7 linked regions of the Homo sapiens genome follow. The protein of the gene in region 1 purifies or fractionates together with the protein of each later gene. This does not show direct contact. Each region holds a gene or a part of one and is shown in the gene's direction. Other genes may lie near its edges.

What was found.
Region 2: the proteins of PLXDC2 (region 1) and DOK4 purify together in Homo sapiens (co-immunoprecipitation; one large-scale study listed by IntAct). This does not show direct contact.
Region 3: the proteins of PLXDC2 (region 1) and TMEM131 purify together in Homo sapiens (affinity purification with mass spectrometry; 2 studies listed by BioGRID and IntAct, with this or other methods). This does not show direct contact.
Region 4: the proteins of PLXDC2 (region 1) and SLC31A1 purify together in Homo sapiens (co-immunoprecipitation; 3 studies listed by BioGRID and IntAct, with this or other methods). This does not show direct contact.
Region 5: the proteins of PLXDC2 (region 1) and UPK3BL1 purify together in Homo sapiens (affinity purification with mass spectrometry; 2 studies listed by BioGRID and IntAct, with this or other methods). This does not show direct contact.
Region 6: the proteins of PLXDC2 (region 1) and NCSTN purify together in Homo sapiens (co-immunoprecipitation; one study listed by IntAct). This does not show direct contact.
Region 7: the proteins of PLXDC2 (region 1) and DHRS7 purify together in Homo sapiens (affinity purification with mass spectrometry; 2 studies listed by BioGRID and IntAct, with this or other methods). This does not show direct contact.

The regions. Positions count from the first base shown.
Region 1 is NC_000010.11:19,822,932-19,826,431, forward strand, and holds part of PLXDC2 (plexin domain-containing protein 2 isoform 1 precursor), read left to right. Parts: intron 1-3,500. UniProt on the Homo sapiens protein: May play a role in tumor angiogenesis.
Region 2 is NC_000016.10:57,479,994-57,483,493, reverse strand, and holds part of DOK4 (docking protein 4), read left to right. Parts: intron 1-3,104; exon of another isoform or gene 3,105-3,199; intron 3,200-3,500. UniProt on the Homo sapiens protein: DOK proteins are enzymatically inert adaptor or scaffolding proteins. They provide a docking platform for the assembly of multimolecular signaling complexes.
Region 3 is NC_000002.12:97,989,449-97,992,948, reverse strand, and holds part of TMEM131 (transmembrane protein 131 precursor), read left to right. Parts: intron 1-3,500.
Region 4 is NC_000009.12:113,224,544-113,228,043, forward strand, and holds part of SLC31A1 (high affinity copper uptake protein 1), read left to right. Parts: intron 1-3,500.
Region 5 is NC_000007.14:102,636,525-102,639,791, reverse strand, and holds the end of UPK3BL1 (uroplakin-3b-like protein 1 precursor), read left to right. Parts: intron 1-592; coding exon 593-669; intron 670-957; coding exon 958-1,078; intron 1,079-2,158; coding exon 2,159-2,267; 3' UTR 2,268-2,767; downstream 2,768-3,267.
Region 6 is NC_000001.11:160,356,416-160,359,449, forward strand, and holds the end of NCSTN (nicastrin isoform 1 precursor), read left to right. Parts: intron 1-184; coding exon 185-339; intron 340-625; coding exon 626-838; intron 839-1,733; coding exon 1,734-1,856; 3' UTR 1,857-2,534; downstream 2,535-3,034. UniProt on the Homo sapiens protein: Essential subunit of the gamma-secretase complex, an endoprotease complex that catalyzes the intramembrane cleavage of integral membrane proteins such as Notch receptors and APP (amyloid-beta precursor protein).
Region 7 is NC_000014.9:60,143,619-60,146,008, reverse strand, and holds the end of DHRS7 (dehydrogenase/reductase SDR family member 7 isoform 1 precursor), read left to right. Parts: exon of another isoform or gene 1-995; coding exon 996-1,043; 3' UTR 1,044-1,890; downstream 1,891-2,390. UniProt on the Homo sapiens protein: NADPH-dependent oxidoreductase which catalyzes the reduction of a variety of compounds bearing carbonyl groups including steroids, retinoids and xenobiotics.

The DNA.
Region 1 (3,500 bases):
TTGAGACAGAGTCTCGCTGTTTCTCCCAGTCTGGAGTGCAGTGGCGCGATCTCAGCTCACTGCAAGCACCGCCTCCCAGGTTCACGCCATTCTCCTGCCTCAGCTTCCCAAGTAGCTGGGACTACAGGCACCCGCCACCACGCCCAGCTAATTTTTTGTATTTTTTAGTAGAGACGGGGTTTCACTGTGTTAGCCAGGATGGTCTCGATCTCCTGACCTCGTGATCAACCCACCTCAGCCTCCCAAAGTGCTGGGATGTTTACTTATGCTTTTAATTTAATATCTTAAAATATGATATACATATATATGTACATATGCATACATATATGGTGGTGGTGGTGTTTCATTTCACTGAAGATGAAGACTATTAAATAATTTTGGTTCTTTGTGGGATTCTTTTTGAATTAAACTGTTTTAGGCCTCATGTCACTAAACTATAATGAAGGAGGCTGTAAAAATATTGTCTCGGCTGGGCGTGGTGGCTCACACCTGTGATCCCAGCACTTTTTTGGGAGGTGGAGGTGGGTAGATCAAGAGGTCAGGAGATCAAGACCATCCTGGCCAACATGGTGAAACCCCGTCTTCCCTAAAAATAAAAAAAATTAGCCAGGCATGGTGGCATGCACCTGTAGTCCCAGCTACTCAGGAGGCTGAGGCAGGAGAATCGCTTGACCCGGGAGGTGGAGGTTGAGATTGCGCCACTGCACTCCAGCTGGGCGACAGAGCAAGACTTCATCTCAAAAAAAAAAAAATTCTCATAAAACTTGTTTTGAGGTGAGGTTCAGTGGCTCACACCTGTAATCCCAACACTTTGGGAGGCCGAGACAGGGGGATTGCTTGAGTCCACGATTTGGAGACCAGCCTGGGCAACATAGGGAAGAGACCTCATCTCTACAGTTTTTTTGTTTTGTTTTGTTTTGTTTTTAATTAGCTGTTCATGGTGGTGCACACCTGTAGTCCCAGCTACTTGGTAGGCTGAGGTGGGAGGATCACTTGAACCCAGGAGGTCAGGGCTGCAATGAGCTGTGATTACACCACTGCATTCCAGCCTGGCCAACAGAGTGTGACCCTGTCTCAAAAAGTAAAATAATAAAAAATCTTGCTGTGGGAGCTGTTACAGGGAAGCAGATGAGGATATTCTGCAATACATTTCACGGTGTCTGCTCCCCAAGATATTATGCCATGAGAAAATGAGAAAGAGAAAGAGACAGAGACAGGGTGAGAGACCTTATGTTTCAATAACAGACATAGTTCTTTTGAACTTGTTTGTGTCTTCTGGACATTATAAATAGTACCTAGGAGTTTTACCATTTAACTTTTGGTTTCTTGAAATCTCAGTGCAAGATTTGTGGCCCACCTCCAACAAGCATATAAACCTTCTGGCCTACATTTGTGTGCTAGCTTACCTATGTCTTCATCTTACCTTTTCTACCTTTTCTCACTTAAAATCTTGTTTGGTATTTGTTTTGGAGATGGGAAAAAAGCAAATAAAATTGAATCGCCATAATACATAAGGTTGTGTATCACTAAGTTGCTTTCCACTTTCTCTTAATCTGATGAATTCCAGCCCTTTGGCTTTATTCTGAGCACATTTTCCCAAAGCTGTAATTATCTCTGTAGAGTACTCCATTCTGAGAGGTCTTTCTTCACTGAGTTCACACAGGATATCTTCCCTCACTGCCTCCCACACAATGATTCTGTTAAGCTGAGGAAGTTACTAGAGAATGACAGGCTAAGTAGTGATGCTTTTATTAAGAAAGTTTCTTCCACTATTTATTGTGTTATACATTAACAGGATAATAGCTGACAAAAGATGAGAATATAAAATATTCCACATGTGTTTATAACCAGACAGTGAACTCATTTCATATTTATTGTTTGGTTTTATTTTCCTCTTTTTAATTAAAAAGGTGGTAAGCTGTGGAATGATGGTATAGATTTGTATATTTAAATAGAATTAGAGGTCTTGTCAGGGGCCTGTTTGGAATTAGCCTGTTAAGGATTACAGATCTGAACATGGGGTCAGACACTAAGTGACGTTACTGGATATCCAGACTTTTAAATCTCTTCTGTCAGAGGCCATCAAACCAGATCTAAGCGCTGGTACCTTTACCTTACCCTTCAAATTAAAATAGGCTGTCCTCACTCTTTCTGCTTGAGGCCTTATCATAGTTAGTGGTCTGTGAATTTTGTCAAGAGAGGGTCACAGGCCAAGATGCAGACTGACTTCCTTTTTACTTGTCTGGAATCTTATTACTCAGTTCCTCAATTATTTTTTACTCAATAATTGGACATTTTCCTTAGAATCCATGTTGTTCGAGGTCTCGTCCTGTAGGTAAGGTGTGTAGCTCATTGAGGCTTTGAGAATATGGAGAGAATGTTAAGAGTTTGCCCTATGGAAAAACTGCATAGGAATCCGAATATTTGAAAGTCAATTCTCTATGTATTCCTTGGAGTGTTCAGTGATACAAAAAGTCTAAATAAAACTGATATATTCTCTTTGAGTATGATGCTTGGTAAGTACACTCTGGTTCATTTTGCTTAGGATACTGTATTCTTGGGTCCAGCTGGAATATGGAACATTGAACATTCGATAATGTTTTTTGGGTAGTAGTTACAGATATCTGCTTACAGTAGCAACTGCTTACAGTAGTAACTCCTACCATTTTCTGTCTGAAACCATTATATGAACATCCAATAAAATATTTATTTCCCTAAAGCCTAAAAGGGAAGTAGGACAGGCAGAATTTATCATTTAGAGCATGAAATGTACCAATAATGATGAGTTTTAAGATGGGAAAGTATTTAAGGTACATTTCAGGTACTGCTCATGCTGAATCTATTATATCTATTTGCTGAATTCTTTCCAACATACAAACTTAGACTGTAGCTACCGCTGACCTAATGAACCTGGTTATTTATATGCTGTCTTTTTGTTCATTTGTCTGGTCAAAAGGGCCCACTCACCTTCCTGTGGGCATAGCTGGCGGGAGCAAGTCTGGTATTTCAGCTGACTTCTCCTTTTGGCTTTCTCTTCTCCTTCTCCTTTTGCTATCTTTTCTCTTCAATTCATTGAAAAATGTCTATATATAAATTACATAAATGCAATCTGCATTGCAAAATATCCCAATGAAAAGTATATATGAAATAATTTTTGGCAAACTGAGTCATGTTCTTAGTGGATATGGGTTCCTGTGATTTCAAGGAATGCTGTCCTGAACTTTTAATTTAAAAACATTCAACCTCCTAATTATTTTGCCAGTCCGTAGTTTTATGTTTAAGATTGCCCAAAATGTACTGCCTGTCCATAATTCTTTCAAGAATTATTGCTTCTGATATTAGCCATTTTAATTCTATTTACTATTTATATAGGTCCTGGGAATATACACCTTTGAATTTTTTGTTGTTGTCATTTAGCCCTTTAATTTGCTAATTCCAGGAAACAAAAATTGAACTAAGAGACATACCACTGTGTCTTTGCACTTTTTTTCTTGGTGCTT
Region 2 (3,500 bases), on another chromosome or scaffold:
ATGCCCAGCTTATTTTTTCATTTTTTGTAGAGACGGGGTCTCTCTATGTTGCCGGATCTGGTCTTGAACTCCTGGCCCCAAGTGATCCTCCCACTTTGGCCTCCCAAAGTGTTGGGATTACAGGTGTGAGCCACTGTGCCTGGTCTGCTCTCCACTTCTTGCTGTCCTATTGGGCCTTCACAGGCTCAGCTTGGGGGCCGCCTCGCTTGCTTAACACAGTGCATTCCTTCTGGAGGATGGTGGGTTGGTTCTGGGCCCCCCCCTCACCACTTGACCCCACTGCCTGTCAAATTTGTGGGTCCACCTATTGGCCCTGACCTTTCCCTCCCCTTCCGAACCCCTCTTTGCCCACCATTTTGGGTCCTAGGTTAGGTCTTGCTCTTGCAAACATCATTAGGGACTAAGTGTGGCCAGGGGTCCCTGTGACTCAGGGCCGGAGTGAGCTGGCAGGACTTTGGCACCCAGCCTTCCCCGTGAAGGTCACTCTTCCCGCTGGGGACCTGGGGTATGGGACGGGGTGGGGCCTATGGACAGACGCAGCAGGAGCACTCCTGCGAGCTTGGGGCCACAGTCCCTGGTGGGGCAACACTGGGAAGGAGCAGGCTGGCTTCTGGTGGTTTCACCGCCCTGTCTGGGCAGCAACTCTTGAAGAAAACTATATATATATACATACACACAGCCCTTGGAGTTTTCAAGGCAGAAGCTCTGGCCAGGCGCAGTTGCTCACACCTGTAATCTCAGCACTCAGGGAGGCCGAGCCTTGTGGATCACTTGACCCCAGGAGTTCAAGACCAGCCTGGGCAACATGGTGAAAACCCATCTCTAGGGGCCGGGCGCAGTGGCTCACGCCTGTAATCCCAGAACGTTGGAAGGCCGAGGCGGGTGGATCACAAGGTCAGGAGATCGAGACCATCCTGGCTAACACGGTGAAACCCCGTCTTTACTAAAAATATGAAACAATTAGCCGGGTATGGTGGTGGGCTCCTGTAGTCCCAGCTACTCGGGAGGCTGAGGAAGGAGAATGGCGTGAACCCGGGAGGCGGAGCTTGCAATGAGCCGAGATTGGGCCACTGCACTCCAGCCTGGGCAATAGAGTGAGACTCCGTCTCAAAAAAAAAAAAAAAAAAAAACAAAAGCCCCATCTCTACAAACAAGTTTTTAAAAATTAGCTGGGCATGGTGGTATGTACCTGCGGTCCCAGCTATTCAGGAGGCTGAGGTGGGTGGATCACTTGAGCCTGGGTGGTTGAGGCTGCCGTAAGCCGTGATGGCACCCCTGCACTCCAGCCTGGGTGACAGAGCAGGACACTGTCTCAAAAGAAGAAAAAGAAGGCCGGGCGCAGTGGCTCACGCCTGTAATCCCAGCACTTTGGGAGGCCGAGGCGGGCGGATCATGAGGTCAGGAGATCGAGACCATCCTGGCTAACACGGTGAAACCCCGTCTCTACTAAAAATACCGAAAATTAGCCGAGCATGGTGGTGGGAGCCTGTAGTTCCAGCTACTCGGGAAGCCGAGGCAGGAGAATGGCGTGAACCCAGGAGGCAGAGGTTGCAGTGAGCCGAGATCGCGCCGCTGCACTCCAGCCTGGGCGACAGAGGGAGACTCCGTCTCAAAAAAGAAAAAGAAAAAGAAAAAGGGTAGAAGCTCTGTGTCCCAAGTGGGCAAGCAGGTGCCTCATGAATTCATTTCCTCATTTAAAGTAGGTAGATTTATTCTCATTTTTTTCCAATGGGGAAATTAAGGCACAGGGTCTTAAGCGGCTTGCCCAGGACCACACAGCCAGCTGGATTCACACTCCGGGCTGTGCTATGTCTGAGCTATGTTGGATGAACCTGGGGGTCCAGTGGCTTCCTGTAGGCGTGTTCTGACTGGGGGCTTCCACACTGTAGACCCACAGCCAGTGGTCAGCCTGCTAATCATCTTGGAGAGGAACTCCTGAGCTGGTCCTTGCTCTGAGGAGAAGGCAGCCCCAGAGGCAGGCGGTGAAGACAGAGCTGAGAAAATTGACCCATCTCTGGCTGCCAGAGCCCAGGTGTAGCAGAGCTGTTGGGGATCAGTTGCCAGTGAGGGGACCCCAGACCAGACCTTATAGGAGGAATGTAGACTGCCTAACTGTGGGAGGTTCTTGGACCCCAGGGAGCTGGGATAGAGGCAGTGAATGGGCAGGAGTGGAATTGAGGGGCTATCAGGGTGCAAGTGGGATAGGGGCGCATTACCGTCTCTGCCCCTCCCTTGTTTGCGTGTGCCCACTGGGGTAGTCCCATCTGTGCGTGTGCCCACTGGGGTAGTCCCATCTGTTCCTTGTTAGGCACTCAACAGACAGGCCTCCAGGACATTAATTAATGCCAAGCTGCTGGCACAACCAGCAGCATGCCTGTCCCAGGGCCCCGTTCTGGCAGCACAGATACCCAGCTGACCCCAGAAATGCTGCTCCGTTCCCACCCGCTGATCCTGAAGACACAGGGGCCACATTGCTGGCATAACCCTGCCCCCGAGGATGGATGGCAGGGAAGGCTTAGGTGGTGGCAGGCAGCCAGAGACGGCAGCAGGATGTTCCCCCCACAGACTGGTCTCCATCACCACCCTGGACCTTCTCCTTCATCCCTGGCTCTGCCCCAGGCCTGCTGTGTGACCTTAGTCATGTAGCTTACCCTCTCTGGGCAACTTTTCTTTCTCCATCTATAAAATGAAGGGGTTAGACTGGGTCAACACTGAGCCTCCCCCTGAGTCTGAGTCTTTGTTGTCTGTAGATCTGCCTGATTTGGGGTGGCTCTGCTGGTACTCCCACTTCCTGCTCCATATCTACCTCCCCTTGGTATCCCACATTGTCTCCTGCATGTCTTGTTGCCCCAGGGCCCTGACTGGTACTCCTATAATTAACTCCTGCCCATGCTCAGGACATGGAGGGCCTGCTTGGCTTGGCCAGACCCAGTGGCCTGTTGGGGCCCGGGCCCCACCCTCACGGACTGGCCAGCGTTCCCAACCCCAGGGCCAGGGCAAGGCGTCTGCTCCCACAGTGGCTACCTCCAGCCGGCCCAGCACATTCCTCAGGCTTATCTGGAGGCCCGCCCCACTGGACTCTGCCCTCCCACCCAGGAAGCAGCACCCAGAGCTGCGTGCGGAAGAGTTGCAGGGCCTGGGAACAGGCCCTGCGTGAGCTCGAGGTAGTGATTCTTAGCCTGGGGCTGGAGAGAAACAGGTAGAGGACCGGGTGGGGCAGGAGGGTAGAGGGGTTTGTGGGGGCTGCTGAGCTGACCAGGCAAATTGTCTTTAACATTGCAGAGCATGGGGTTCACTCAGACACGCAGGGGTCATCTCCTGCGACCCTCCTCCTCCATCTCTGGGAAGCGCTTCCCTGCTACCCCTGGGAGCTCTTGTACCCAGGAAGGGGCTTTTGCTCTTGGCAAGTTGACCTAAATTTGCACCAGAGTTATCACAGTTGATGGGGCCACGATCCCAAAGTGCTGAGGGACAGCAGCTCCCTGCCACTTCCCTTCCTG
Region 3 (3,500 bases), on another chromosome or scaffold:
CAGAGGAAAGGTACCTTTGAGATGGTTTTGGCTGTGATGTAAAGTTTGTAAGGACTTTGAAAGAGTTTCCAGAGATAGAAGTTGTTATAATCACTACAAATAACTAGTTCTAGATTGGTGGCAAGATTTTGTCTTGAGGCTAACATCTAGATACTGAGAATAGCAAAAATGTGTGTGAGTTGTGAAAATATATTTTTAAAATATATAGTGAAAATACATGTGTATGTGTATATATTAAATGTATACTTTTAGTAGTCTTTTGAATTATAAAGCAGCCCATTATGACTGGCAAATAAGACCTTTTTTAAAAAAGCATTATATATCATGTAATATAATTTCATTGTGAAGTGGGTTTTTGGAAGGCATTTATTATAAATGAGAAGCTATAGTTTATGTATCTAGTAAATATAAATTCGAATAAGTTTTCAAGAATGTTTCAATTTATGACAATTTAAATTTCATTGTCACATGTTTTATTAATTGGCAATTAAATGGCAGGGTAACGTTTGACAGCCTTTATTAGGACTTTAAAAATTTTTTGCCAGTGTACTATAGTTTCATGCACAAATTTTTGTTTTAAGCTGTATTTGTGACATAGGTGCAAAACACAGTACAAAAGTATTTACAAAGCATATGAGAAAAGTGCATAGGACTAAAGACCACAAGAAAACAGATAAGAATCTAATAGTTTTCTAAGGGTAGCCAAATTGACTAGGAGTGTTATTTACTTTTTCTTAACCAAACTATTTTTAACCTACTTATTACTCGATAATGTTAAAATGTTTTTGAAAGTGATTTTCTTAAGAGTGAGATGTGTTAACCCTTTGTATGGGGTAGAGTGGGTACCTTTTAATTTAGGGCCTTGTAAATAGAATGTTATTTAATAAGTGCTTCACTAATGAACGTTTGTAGCCTGCTTTTACTAAAGGCTGTTGCCTGATGGAGCATTGGAGTTTTGTAGTTGGAAAAAGTGTGTCCTTTTTTCCTCTTGCTAATGACCATTTTCCTCCTCCTTCTAATTCTTACAGTGGACCCTCATAGACATCTGCCAACAAGATTGCTTTGGGAGTAGATGTAAACTCATCTAATTGTTACTATCCAGAGTAGCAATAAGCCAAATTACTCTTGGAGGAAAATAAAATCTTTGCTAGGTGCTTGATATTTTAGGTGTTCTCTCTCTTGCCTATATGTGACTCAAGCGCTCTGATTGGCCTTGCCAGACCAAGAGGCCCTTTTCCTACAGCTGAATTTTCCCCTACGGTCTCTTGTAAGCAGCATCTGGCATTGTTTCGGTGACTCTGTACTTCTCGGTTCTGGTTGTGCCCTAGCTGACAGTTGCTGCTCTCCAATTGCCTGTTGGTTGTCTTCCTCCCTGTGTGTGTCTAGCTGCTGGTGCACACTGCATGTGTCCAGGGCAGAATTATCTTGCGCCACCTCCAGTTTTCAGTTTTTTATTAATGCTATGATTATTCTGCCTGCCCCACTGGATTCAGTTTTGACCCTTCACCAAGTGGCATCAGTGCCTGTTACATCCTCTTTTGATCACTCTCCCACTGCCTTCACCATGGGGCACTGCAGCAGCCTCTCTCCTACCGCCTTTCGCCATTTCTGTTCAGTCCTGCATGCTCCCTCTGAATTTGTGGTCTTTGTTAATCATTCATCATTCATTTTGACACCTAATTGTGTACTGCCTTGTTAGCTACTTAAATGATTTCAGGGGTGTCATTCTTCACCTAGGCTGGAATTTCTGTAGGGCAGAACCTTTGTCAACATCTGTAGTACATAAATAGCAGGCATTCAGTTTTGATTGAAAGTTTGCCTAAACTTTCATTGTAATATAATTTCATTGTGAAGTGGGTTTTTGGAAGGCATTTAATTTATTATAAATGAGAAGCTATAGTTTATGTATCTAGTAAATATAAATTCGAATAAATTTTCAAGAGTGTTTCAACCTATGACAATTTAAATTTCATAGTCACATGTTCTATCAATTGGCAATTAAATGGCAGAGTAACGTTTGACAGCCTTTATTAGGACTTTTAAAATTTTTTGCCAGTGTACTATAGTTTCATGCACAAATTTTTGTTTTAAGCTGTATTTGTGACGTAGGTGCAAAACACAGTACAAAACTATTTACAAAGCATATGAAAAAAGTGCATAGGACTTTTTATACCTGAGAACCTGAGAGTCAGAAGTACAGGTAAAATTCAGTTCTGGTGCAGATGTCATGAGGAAGTCTGCTATAGTAGGACATTGAGTAACACCAGTTTTTTCTTCCCCACATGTTGCTTTTCCTTGTAACTAAAAGGAGTTGTATACACTTATCTAAACCATCACTTTTATAACTTTTTGATTTTAAGATTTTCAGATTCTCATAAAACCCTAATCTAGAGATCATGAAACTGAGGCTTAGAGAGGTTAAGTAATATACCCAGCGTGATAGGGCTGGTAAATAGTGGAGCCAGGATTCCGCCCTAAGACATCTGTCCCTTGAGCCAAACTATGTAACCCCAAATGAGCACTTCAGGAATTAGATTTTGTTATATTGTACCAACTGCAAAAAGAACAGACTTGACAGTTCATGCAAAACCCATGTATTAGTATTCAAGTAAAATGTACTTTTTTTTTTTTTCAATCAGCCACAAGCTTTCATATCACTTTCTGTTGACTTGTTAACAGTTTAAGTAATCACAGGCCATTCTGGATCATGAAGGTTCTTAAAAGGAAACCAGTGAGTGGATAATACAGGGAAATGAATATTTGGTATTCGAAGCTACTGTCTCTTTGTTCTTGATGACTTAGATACCTGGTTGTATTGCTAAGGTTAAGCAATATTGCCTTCTGTAGATACTGCTTAGCTCCAGATTGGTGTGATGAGTTAGTCTAGACTTGTGGAATATTCTCAGAAGCTGGCCCTGGACTAACAGGAGCTGGAGATAATGCAAGGGCTGGTAGTGGCATTTGCCTCGGCAGGCAGAAATCTCTCGCAGACTTCCATTAGAGGTCCAAGGGCTCCAGAAGAAGTTCAAAGGTGCTTTGTTCTTATTAGGGCATTTTGGAATTAGGTGGTCATTAGTTCTCATCTGTAGTTCCAAATCTGTTTTGTTGTTGTTGTTTTTTAATTCCCATGTGATTACTTTTAAAACCACAGATGGAGGGTTTCTAGAAAGCCTTTGCCATTTGCCTGATTGATTTTGTTGCATACAACTCTGCCGTTTTAGGGCAGAGGTTTGATGTTTAAGAGGATCTTTTAGATGGTCAGTCATGATAGAGTATGAAACCTACGTTTTTATTTATTTTCATTTATTTATTTTCTAGAAACTTGGTGAAAAAAACACATAACAAAATACTTAACCATTTTTATATGTACAGTTCAGTGGTGTTAAGTGTATTCACGTTGTTGTGTAGCAGATCTTCAGAACTTCTTCATGTAAAGCTGGAAGTCTATACCCATTAAACAACTTCCTATTTCTCTCCCTACCCTTAATCCCCACCCCCAG
Region 4 (3,500 bases), on another chromosome or scaffold:
TCACCCTCCCGAGTAGCTGGGATTACAGGCATGTGCCACCATGCCCGGCTAATTTTGTATTTTTAGTAGAGACGGGGTTTCTCCATGTTGGTCAGGCTGGTCTGGAACTCCCGACCTCAGGTGATCCACCCGCCTTGGCCTCCCAAAGTGCTAGGATTAGAGGCGTGGGCCAACGCACCCGGCCTTGTGTGCTCACTTTTATCTGGTCTTTCGAAAGCATTCAGTGTGGTGTTTTAGAAATAACTACTAGAGAGTCTATGTAGTACAGTAGTTAAGTACTTGAGCTCTGGAGCCAAATTGCTTTGCCACTTATTAGTTGTATAGGCCATAGACAAGTTACTCAGTTTTTGCCTTTGTAAAACAGGCATAATGGTAGTATCCATTTCTAGGTTTCTTGTGAATATTATAGGAGTTAATTCATGTAAAGCATTTAGAACAGTGCCTGGCAGGTAGTAAGTACTCAGTGTTAATTGCTGCTGTCATTTTTCTCTTCTCATTTATACTTCATTGCTTTACATAGTATTTACGTACTTTCAGTAATAAGCACAACTGGCATAAATAGGTTTGTGAATAAACACACTGTCACCATTGATAAGCACACTTCACAGAGGGGGAACCAGAAGTGTTGTTCCCATCACATTGGAGAATAGCCTAATGGTGTGATGTCAGTTAAATTGGATAAGAGAGTTCTGTGGGATAGTTTGCTAAGAGTATAAGGCAACAGTTCACAGAAGAAAGTAATGGATTAAAATTGAAAAGGAATCCAGGACCATATTTGTCAAATACCTTGAAGGTCAAGGTGACAAGTTTGTACTTAGATTGGTAGGAAGTGGAATTTTTTATTCTAAATGGCATGATTGATGTAAAAAAGTTCAAATGGCTTAGGAGTGTATGAAGTAAAAAGTTACATTTCCCTAGCTCCATTCCATGTCAGTAGCCACTTCATTTTCTAATGGCCCCTAGAACATGAGGTTGTTGTGAAGGCATGGTAAACACCACTTGGGGCACTGGTATTAATCTGTTAAAATTTTCAATTCAGCTTTCCTTTGGATTATAATCTCAATTTTGAATTGAGAAAAATAAAGTTTCCATACTAAATGTGAATAAAATGAAATGACTGTTTTGAAAGTAGATACCATACTCATAAGAGTCTTTGATTCCTAAGTCTTTCTCTACCTCTTTTGTCCAACTTGGAAGTCTTGGTAGAGAAGGACTTAGGAATCAGAGACTCATCTCTACTGTTAATTCCTTTTTGCACCTTTCCCACCAGAAGTGCTACAAGAGAGAAAGATGATATAATAATCACTAGAAAAGCAAAGTGTTCGGCCAGGTGTGGTGGCTCCCGCCTGTAATCCCAGCTCAGGCAGATCACCTGAGGTCAGGAGTTCGAGACCAGCCTGGCCAACATGGTGAAACCCCGTGTCTGCTGAAAATACAAAAATTAGTCAGGCATGGTGGCGGGCACCTGTAGTCCCAGCTACTCAGGAGACGGAGGCACGAGAATTGCTTGAGCTCCGGAGAGGCGGAGGTTGCAGTGAGCTGAGGTCACGCCACTGTGCGCCAACCTGGGCGACAGAGTGAGACTCCATCTCAAAAAAAAAAAAAAAGAAATAAAGAAAGCAAAGTGTTTACAGTGACAAGTTGATTTCAACTAGCAGTTGTCAGTTAAGTTAGTAACAGGGCATCACCCAAATAACTGCATTTTAAAGTGGACAGGGCAGGCCTGACTGGGGAAAAGGGAGGGAAGGGGTAGGGGGTTCCTGATGCCTGTACTCCCACATGCAGCTCTTAAATCCATTTTAAAAACTTAAAAGTTTTCTGTAGTTTTGTGACTTAAGTATAACAAGTCATCAAAAGTCTGATACTTAATACATTACAATGAACAGTTTATGCCAAAAGAAATCTTATAGTAGGGCCTGGGAAGGAAATGCTTTTGAAGTTCCATTGCTTTGAGTAATATCATTTTATGATTTAGGTAACATCCCCAAGCAGAGGAGGGGCCCATCCTTAGGAATGCAAAGCCCTGCAGAGAAGGAAAGGGTTGAGAAGGGTCCACCCTACCTCTTTTCCTTTACACAATGGCCCTAGGCTTTTGTATACAACCTGCTTTTGTAGGCTTAGGACATTATGAAATACAGCATGGTAAGATGGAAGCCTGAATCTCAAAAGTAAATATGAGAAATGATTTGGAGGGAACATATAAAGAGAGCAAAATTCTAGCAACAGGTGACATATTTCCCTAGATAGAAGAGTTATTGTAGAACTATGATGAGTGTTTATATAATTTTGAAGCAGTTTACAGCATCTAGAATGTAGTCATTTAATTTATGAAATGAAAGGGAAATGGTGTAACTCATACACCCGCATCCTCTCTCCTACCTTTTCTGATGGCTTTTTATGAGTTCTCACACAACCCCTATGCATAATCTATACCTTAGTACATTTTACATTATTTTTAAATTATTTACATGTGTCCCTCTTTCACCAGAATGGGTTTCTTATGGTTAGAGTTTCATCATGGTACCTTCATTCGATAGGTATGCAATAAATAGTGAAAGAATAGTCTGAGTTCCTTGAAATTGCATAGCAAATGAGACCTAAGAGCCAGATCTAGAATGCAGATGTAGAACCTCTTTCAGTTCCTAGCCCAGTACTTTTACTGCCACACCATACAGCCTCTATCTGAGATATTGAACAATTTTTTTCTTTTTTCTTTTATTTTTTCTTGAAACAGGATCTTGCTTTGTTGCCCAGGCTGGAGTGCAGGAGCACAATCTCAGCTCACTGCAACCTCTGTCTCCCAGGCTCAAGCAATCTTCCCATCTCAGCCTTTCGAGTAGCCGGGACTACAGGCATGCACCACCACGCCCAGCTAATTTTTTGTATTTTTGATAGAGTCGGGGCTTTGCCATGTTGCCCAGGCTGGTCTCAAACTCCTGAGCTTAAGCAGTCTGCCCACCTTGGCCTCTTAGAGTGCTGGGATTACAGGCATGAGCCACCATGTCCAGCCTCATTTGCATTCTTGTACTGCATTTTCATTAAATCATTCAAGTTCCTTTTATCTTGTGTAACATATTTAATTGCATTTTCCTACTGAATAAAAAAAAGGGAACAGTTCAAATGTTTTCTAGTTTCTGTCTTATGCCATATTAATTTCCAATATTACTCATAGGCAAACCAACAACATTATTATCCAAACAGTTTAAATGCTATGTAATATAACTAAAGCAAAGTTTAGACAAGGAGGACCATTGTCTACATTTGATTATAACAATAAAGCAGTTAAAGCAATGCTTTGCCAATGTATATTTGTCTGACTAGCTAGTTTTGTTTAAATCAAACTGTGAAAGGCTGTATACTTCAAGAAACATGAAAGTGAGCCTTATGTGTGACTTAGTTCCTTTCAGAGATTAATTTTGTCATCTAATGAGCAAGCAAGCTATTATATTTCATATTTACTGTACCTTAAAATTGGAAAGTATTTAACATATTTTATTTGA
Region 5 (3,267 bases), on another chromosome or scaffold:
TTAGTAGAGACAGGGTTTCGCCATGTTGGCCAGGTACCTGCCACCATGCCTGGCTAATTTTTGTAATTTTAGTAGAGATGAGGTTTCACCATGTTGGCCAGGCGGGTCTCAACTCCTGGCTTCAAGTGATCTTGAAGGCCCACCTTGGCCTCCCAAAGTGCTGGGATTACAGACGTGAGCCACCATGCCTGGCCTATCCTGCTTTTCTTGAGCAGAAGGTTCCCCACCTCAAGCCCCAGTCCCCACAGGCTGTGTGGACCACTCAGGTGGCGTCTCTCCATCCAGACAGGGTCTCCCCTCACTAAATGCTTGATTCACGCATGTTCAGTTCTGAGACATCTAATACTCGCCCTCTACCTTTCCCAAATGAGGACACAGAAGCCCAGAGAGGGGGAGGGACGTCACACCACTGGAAATGTCACACCTAGATTTGAACCCATTCTGTTGGGCTCTTTCGCCCCAGCCTCCGGCCCCCTCCCCGGGCTGCTCTCGCCAGGGCCTGGGACTCCAGGGGACAGACTTGCAGGCACCAAGTCTGATGGTTTCAGGACTCCGGGGGACCCCCATGTCCAATGCTGGGTCTCCCATTCAGGGTGAAGTTCCTGGTGATGAATGACGAAGGACCCGTGGCTGAAACCAAGTGGTCCAGCGACACTCGCCTGCAGCAAGGTAGGGGCCAGAGGCTCCGGTCAAACAGTAGGGGCAGGGGGCTGGGGCCTGGGGGTCCTGAGGACTGAGGATGGGCTGGGGGAACAGGTCAGCTCACCACTGAGTCAGAGGCAGCCAACCATCTTGCAATCTGCAGGCGCCCCTCCCCCAGCCACCCCCTTCCCCCAGGCCTGGGTGGTAGTAGGGGAGGCAGGGCGGTGATTGGTCTGGATTCTGCCCAAGGGCCCCTTCCGGTCAGGTAAAATTTCTTTTCCTGCCCGCCTGTGCGGCCCCCATCACTGCCCTCAGCCCAGGCACTTCGGGCTGTCCCCGGCCCCCAGAGCCCGGGCACCGTGGTCATCATCGCCATCCTGTCTATCCTCCTGGCCGTCCTCCTCACGGTCCTCCTGGCTGTGCTCATATACACCTGGTGAGTGGACCGGGCTGAGACCGCCCATGCCTCTTGGGAGGGGCGGGGCCCTTGGGCATTAACCCCTCCCTCTCTAGTTCCTCCCCGCCCGCCCCTGCCCACCTTCCAAGCGGGCACTGTGCACCCCCTGGTGGCAGCATCTGGGATTGCAAGTGGGTGCCGCCTGCGGACACCCCAGTCGGGGAGGCGCCCAAGGAGGAGGTGAATTGCTTTCACACCAAGCTCTGAGCATTGCCTCAAGACGCCATACAGGCCGGGTGCGGTGGCTCACGCCTGTAATCCCAGCACTTTGGGAGGCTGAGGCCCGCAGATCACCTGAGGTCAGGAGTTCAAGACCGGCCTGGCCAACATAGTGAAACCCCAGCTCTACTAAAAATACAAAAAATTAGCCGGGTGTGGTGGCACGTGCTTGTAATCCCAGCTACTCAGGAGGCTGAGGAAGGAGAATGGCTTGAACCTGGGAGGTGGAGGTTGCAGTGAGCTGAGATTGCATCACTGCACTCCAACCTGGGTGACAGAGTGAGACTCCATTTAAAAAAAAAAAGGGGGGGGTGTCAGGATTTCATACAGAGCTCAGGTGCCTGAGCCTGGGGCACAGAGAGTGTCCACAAGGCTTCCTAGAGAAAAGGGGAGACCTAGCCCTGTTGGGATTTGGGGAGGAGGGGGAGAGGGAGTGACTAAAAAGGGGGTGGGGAGGTGTGGGGGCAGGAGGGGCAGGAGGGGTGCATGCAGCCAGGCCAGGCCAGGGGCCCCAGGTGCCTAGCTGAGGAACTGGGCTGTATCCTGCAGCCTATGGGAGCCGGGAGTGGGTTTTGATCAGGGGAGACAGGCAGATAATGTTTGAGCGGGGTCCTGAGGTGTGGAGGGTGGAGGGGGAGAGTGATGGGGAGCAGGAGCAATGAGCTAGATTTGTGAGGTTTGAAGGAATCGCCTCAGTCCCTTTGGTTAATTCTGCCCAGCCAGTGGAGTCTCAGTTTCCCCTATGCGATGGGTCAGAGCATGCTAGCCAATGGCTGTGGGATCTCGGCCAGAGCCTTTCTTCAGCATCCATCATCTCTCCCTCTCTCCTCCCCTCCCAAGCTTCAACAGCTGCAGGAGCACTTCCCTATCAGGCCCAGAGGAGGCAGGGAGTGTGAGAAGATACACCACGCACCTCGCGTTCAGCACTCCTGCCGAGGGGGCTTCCTGAGGGGTTCCAGAGGGGCCCACGTGTCCCTCCACCTCCTCCCTGGCCCAGGCTGCAGAGCCTGAGCTGGGACACGCCCTGAAGCTTCTGGACCCTGAGAGAGATTGTTTCTTTTCTTTACTATTTTTTTTTTTTTTTTTTTGAGACGGAGTCTCACTCTGTCGCCAGGCTGGCGCGATCTTGGCTCACTGCAACCTCTGCCTCACGGGTTCAAGCGATTTTCCTGCTTCAGCCTCCTGAGTAGCTGGGACTACAGGCACACGCCACCATGCCCAGCTCATTTTTGTATTTTTAGTAGAGATGGGGTTTCACCATGTTGGCCAGGATGGCCTCCATCTCTTGACCTTGTGATCCGCCCGACTCGGCCTCCCAAAATGCTGGGATTACAGGCGTGAGCCATCAAGTCTGGCGAGAGAGATTGTTTCTAGATGAGGGTGGGGGCGGGTGTCCTTAGCCCAAAGCTTGTGCCAGTCTCTATCGGAAATAAATGCCCCCAAAACCTCCCTGCCTGTCCGTGACATCATACACCTGGGTAGTCTTTCTGCACCACTGCCCCTGGCTCCTCCTCCTGAGGAGGTCCCCAAGGGCGTGTAGGACCAGGGCAAGGCTCAGGATCCTAGAGAAATTGTCACCTGGGGCAGGACAGGCCTCTCTGCCAGCCTTACTGTCCCTATCTGTAAAATGAGGATGGTAACCCTGAACCCACAAGGCCACAGTAAGGCTAAACCAAGGTGAACATGCCTTGGGAACTGTGAAGACTGTGGACCCAAAGCCGGTTGCGGTGGCTCAGGCCTGTAATCCCAGCACTTTGGGAGGCTGAGGCAGGAGGATCACTTGAGCCCAGGAGTTCGAGACCAGCCTGGGCAACATGGTGAAACCCCATCTCTACAAAAATGACAAAAAATTAGCTGGGCTTGTTGGCGGACTGTGGACCTGAGATAGGTGCTCCTCTTGTCCTGCCCAGACAGCCTCCTGGTAACCAAAGGCCACGGGGCAGCATGGC
Region 6 (3,034 bases), on another chromosome or scaffold:
ACCTTTATTATTTTTTTTCTTTTTCCTCTCTGTTTTTCTTACCCCCTGTTTTCCTTTCTTTCTTCTCATATTTGATGGATCCTTTTCCATTGCCCTTCTTTCTGGCTGCTGCCAATCTTGGGCTTTTCCTATTTCACCCACCATCCACCCACCAAATCTTCCCTTCCCTTTGGTCTGCACTCAGGTGACGGGCCTCTTCAACATTACATCGCTGTCTCCAGCCCCACCAACACCACTTATGTTGTACAGTATGCCTTGGCAAATTTGACTGGCACAGTGGTCAACCTCACCCGAGAGCAGTGCCAGGATCCAAGTAAAGTCCCAAGTGAAAACAAGGATGTGAGTGGTGGTGGGTGTTGGAAGTGCCCTGGGGCCCCTTTCCCTTGGGAAAGTTGGAGGTTCTTCTAGACCTAGTTAGACCCAGGGGATTGGGATGGAGAGGTGGAGAGATGCAGTCCTCAGCAATTGGGTGTTGAAAAGCCTGGGTGAAAATGGACCATCTGAAGGGTAAAGGGACAGCAGCCAGTTAGCTCAATTGGTTAGAGCATGGCACTGATAGAGGGTAGAGGGAACGAGTGAGAAGAGGATCACCCTAGCCGTGTGTTGTGGCGCATCTTCTGTGCAGCTGTATGAGTACTCATGGGTCCAGGGCCCTTTGCATTCTAATGAGACGGACCGACTCCCCCGGTGTGTGCGTTCTACTGCACGATTAGCCAGGGCCTTGTCTCCTGCCTTTGAACTGAGTCAGTGGAGCTCTACTGAATACTCTACATGGACTGAGAGCCGCTGGAAAGATATCCGTGCCCGGATATTTCTCATCGCCAGCAAAGAGCTTGAGGTGAGATGGGGCAGGGGCATAGGTGGCAGGGATCTGTTTGACTTCTTTCTCTGCTTTCTTGTGTCATATAGCCCTTTCCATCTCCCATTTGCCCCACATTTGTAGCAAAAGCCTACTGCAAATCTGTCCCTGGTCAGCCAGCATGTTCCCTTAGGAGGCCTTTTTTTTGAGATGGAGTTTCATTCTTGTTGCTCAAGCTGGAGTGCAATGGCACAATCTCAGCTTACTGCAACCTCCGTCCCTTGGGTTTAAGCAGTTCTCCTGCCTCAGCCTTTCGAGTAGCTGGGATTACAGGCATGTGTCACCACACCCAGCTAATTTTTTTTTATTTTTAGTAGAGATGGGTTTCACCATGTTGGTCAGGCTAGTCTTAAACTCCTGACCTCAGGTGATCCACCTTTCTTGGCCTCCCAAAGTGCTGGGATTATAGGCGTGAGCCACTGCACCCGGCCAGGAGGCCTTTCTTCACAGATAGTTTGAGTAGGTGTTCATTCTGGAGAGCCCCTGTGGATCCCAGAACTCTTTCACAGCTTCAACTCCCGGCTGGCATTCCCCATCTGGCACAGCTGGGATGAGTCAGTCTAATGTACCGAGCTCCTGTCACAAGTCAGTAATGTAAGTGCCGCAAGGGAACCAAAGCCATGGGCCCTCCTTTCAAAATGCCTAAAATCTAAGTAATACAAGATGGAAGCAAGAACAGAGATGCTTTACTTCTCTTTTCAAATGGGGAGACAAAGTCTGTAGGCTGGAGAGATGTTGCCCATGATTATTCCATAGTTGGTGCTTAGAGCCAGCATCCGAATTCCCATGGCTCCAAACCCCAAACAGTTATCCAAAAAACTGCACTGAGTTCTGAGAATGCCTTTGTCCTTTCCTGCCCTCCCTCCCCCTGCAGTTGATCACCCTGACAGTGGGCTTCGGCATCCTCATCTTCTCCCTCATCGTCACCTACTGCATCAATGCCAAAGCTGATGTCCTTTTCATTGCTCCCCGGGAGCCAGGAGCTGTGTCATACTGAGGAGGACCCCAGCTTTTCTTGCCAGCTCAGCAGTTCACTTCCTAGAGCATCTGTCCCACTGGGACACAACCACTAATTTGTCACTGGAACCTCCCTGGGCCTGTCTCAGATTGGGATTAACATAAAAGAGTGGAACTATCCAAAAGAGACAGGGAGAAATAAATAAATTGCCTCCCTTCCTCCGCTCCCCTTTCCCATCACCCCTTCCCCATTTCCTCTTCCTTCTCTACTCATGCCAGATTTTGGGATTACAAATAGAAGCTTCTTGCTCCTGTTTAACTCCCTAGTTACCCACCCTAATTTGCCCTTCAGGACCCTTCTACTTTTTCCTTCCTGCCCTGTACCTCTCTCTGCTCCTCACCCCCACCCCTGTACCCAGCCACCTTCCTGACTGGGAAGGACATAAAAGGTTTAATGTCAGGGTCAAACTACATTGAGCCCCTGAGGACAGGGGCATCTCTGGGCTGAGCCTACTGTCTCCTTCCCACTGTCCTTTCTCCAGGCCCTCAGATGGCACATTAGGGTGGGCGTGCTGCGGGTGGGTATCCCACCTCCAGCCCACAGTGCTCAGTTGTACTTTTTATTAAGCTGTAATATCTATTTTTGTTTTTGTCTTTTTCCTTTATTCTTTTTGTAAATATATATATAATGAGTTTCATTAAAATAGATTATCCCACACGACTTGTACTGCTAGTTATTCTTCCCAGGCCACCTTGTTCAGCGAGCCTAGACTGGAAGTCATGAAGTTATCTTTTATGCTATCATCTTGGGCTCCAGAGGACCCAAGGAGTAAGGCTCTGTCAAAAACAGTTGAAGTCCTTTCAAATTGCAGAGCCCTGGTTCTCCTCTTGTAAGAACAATGTTAACATAGTTTCTTCTCACTTTGTAATGAACGGGCATTTTTTTTTTTTTTTTTTTTTTTTTTTTTTTTTGAGATGGAGTCTTGCTCTGTCACCCAGGCTGGAGTGCAGTGGCGCGATCTCGGCTCACTGCAAGCTCCACCTCCCGGGTTCACGCCATTCTCTTGCCTCAGCTTCCCAAGTAGCTGGGACTACAGGCACCCACCACCACGCCCAGCTAATTTTTTTTGTATTTTTAGTAGAGACGGAGTTTCACCATGTTAGCCAGGATGGTCGTGACCTCCTGACCTTGTGATCCACCCACCTCGACCTCCCAAA
Region 7 (2,390 bases), on another chromosome or scaffold:
TTATTGATAAGCGTCTAAGTTAAGAAAATGCTAGCATAGCTTATTTCAAGCTAATAGTACTTGTTAACTAGAATTTGCTTCTTTAGTCTGTATGTCTGGAACTTTGTTTTTATGAATCTTTATTATTTTTAGGGATCAAGAACAGTGGCTACACTGAATTTTGTATTATCATTATTATTATTTTGTCTTTCTTAGTGCAAAGTTTTGAAAGTGGTAAATGCATATCTTCTGAAAAGAAACATCACATCTTGGGGATTATCAGGTTGCCTTGTTTTATTCCTTAAGCAATATACAAAAAGTTCACAAATAATTTTTTTTTCTTTTTATTTTTTTTGAGACAGAGTTTCCCTCTTGTTGGCCAGGCTGGAGTGCAATGGCGCAGTCTCAGCTCACTGCAACCTCCGCCTCCTGGATTCAAGCAATTCTCTTGCCTCAGCCTCCCGGGTAGCTGGGATTACAGGTGCACACCACCACACCCAGCTAATTTTTGTATTTTTAGTAGAGATGGGGTTTTGCCAGGCTGGTCTCTAACTCCTGACCTCAGGTGATCTGCCCACCTCGGCCTCCCAAAGTGCTGGGATTACAGGCATGAGCCACAGTGCCTGCCTGGCCACAAATAATTTTAAAGAGTTATCTTCCATATATCTCAATTCTACATAATCTGACTCATTGTTTTTATTTATTAGGGCAAGTCAGTGTAGGTATGATATGCTGATCCAGAAAAGTCATTATAGAGAATTTAGCATTGCAGTCCAATGCTATTTATACCTCCTCTAAACCAGAGATGATGCTAAACTCATTAGAAGTACTTTTGTGTACATCTAGAATTTTGGCTATGATTTTTAAATTCTAATTTAAGCAGTTTCTGAACTTTTGTAAAGATTCTTAATAGTGAATCATAATGATACAGCTCCTCAAAACAGAAGGACTTAAATGTTAAAAACTGGAGTAAATAGGAGTAGGTACTGATCCATGTTTCTGTCCCTCTTTTACAGGATGCAGACTCTTCTTATTTTAAAATCTTTAAGACAAAACATGACTGAAAAGAGCACCTGTACTTTTCAAGCCACTGGAGGGAGAAATGGAAAACATGAAAACAGCAATCTTCTTATGCTTCTGAATAATCAAAGACTAATTTGTGATTTTACTTTTTAATAGATATGACTTTGCTTCCAACATGGAATGAAATAAAAAATAAATAATAAAAGATTGCCATGAATCTTGCAAAAAAGGTATTAACTCATACTATATTCTTGGATAAAATAACCTTTTAAAATACTTTAGCACATATGCTTAAAATCTAAGTTAACAGATTTGTCTTAGTCCATTTGTGCTGCTATAACAAAATACCACAGATTTGGTAATTTATAAACAACAGAAATCTGTTTTTCCTGGCTCTTGAGGCTGGGAATTCCAAGACCAATGCACCAGCAGAATTAGTGTCTGGTGAAGGCTGATCTCTGCTTCCAAGATGGCACCTCATTGCTGCATCCTCCACAGTGGAGGAATGTATGTCCTCACATGGTGGAAGGGACAGAAGGGAAAGAGGAGCAAAATGCTTTCAAAAGAGCATTTAATCTCATTCATTACTCAGTCACCTCTTAAAGGCCACATCCTTTAATACTGTTGCTTTGGGGATTAAGTTTCGACATGAATTTTGGAGGGGACAAAAACATCCAAACCATAGCAACATAAATGTATAGAATATTTCACACAAAGCAGAGTGCTGGGTAATGACCAGATATAAAGAAGTATTTGAAATGACCTTACCTCCAAGATGCTTATACTCTTAGAAAAGTTGACAGGTACAGATGGCTGTAATTTGAAGCAGCAGGTAGGATTCATTGCACCTATTATTCATTAAACACCTGTTGTATGTCTTCTACTGTACTGGAGTGCTTAGTATTAGTTAATTAACTCATTCCTCATAACAGCCCACTAAGATAGATGGTATTACCTACCTTGATAGATGAAGAAAGACCAACAAGGTTTTACTTTTCCAAGGTCAAGGTCACAAAGCTAGTAAGGGGTAAAGCCATGATTAGATTCAGCTCAGGAAGATTCCACTGGCAACTCCTTACTTCTACTATTATTAATTTTACTTTAACATTTAACACCTTACAGCAGAAAACATGCACAGGCACTAATAGGAAATCAGCAGGAGTAACAGGTAAAGAAAAACATGGTCCTTATCTACAAGCAGTTCACAATTGAGCTGGAGCCAAAGTAACATACATAAAATAACTGTAGAATAGTTGTTGGGCAAGTTGGAAGCCACCCAAGTGGCTGTCCTTGGAAAAGGGGGAAGATGACATGTGGTAGAGGTACACGATGAGGTATAGCGGGTAGAAGCAATGGAATAAATGCATACATAACAACATGGATATGTA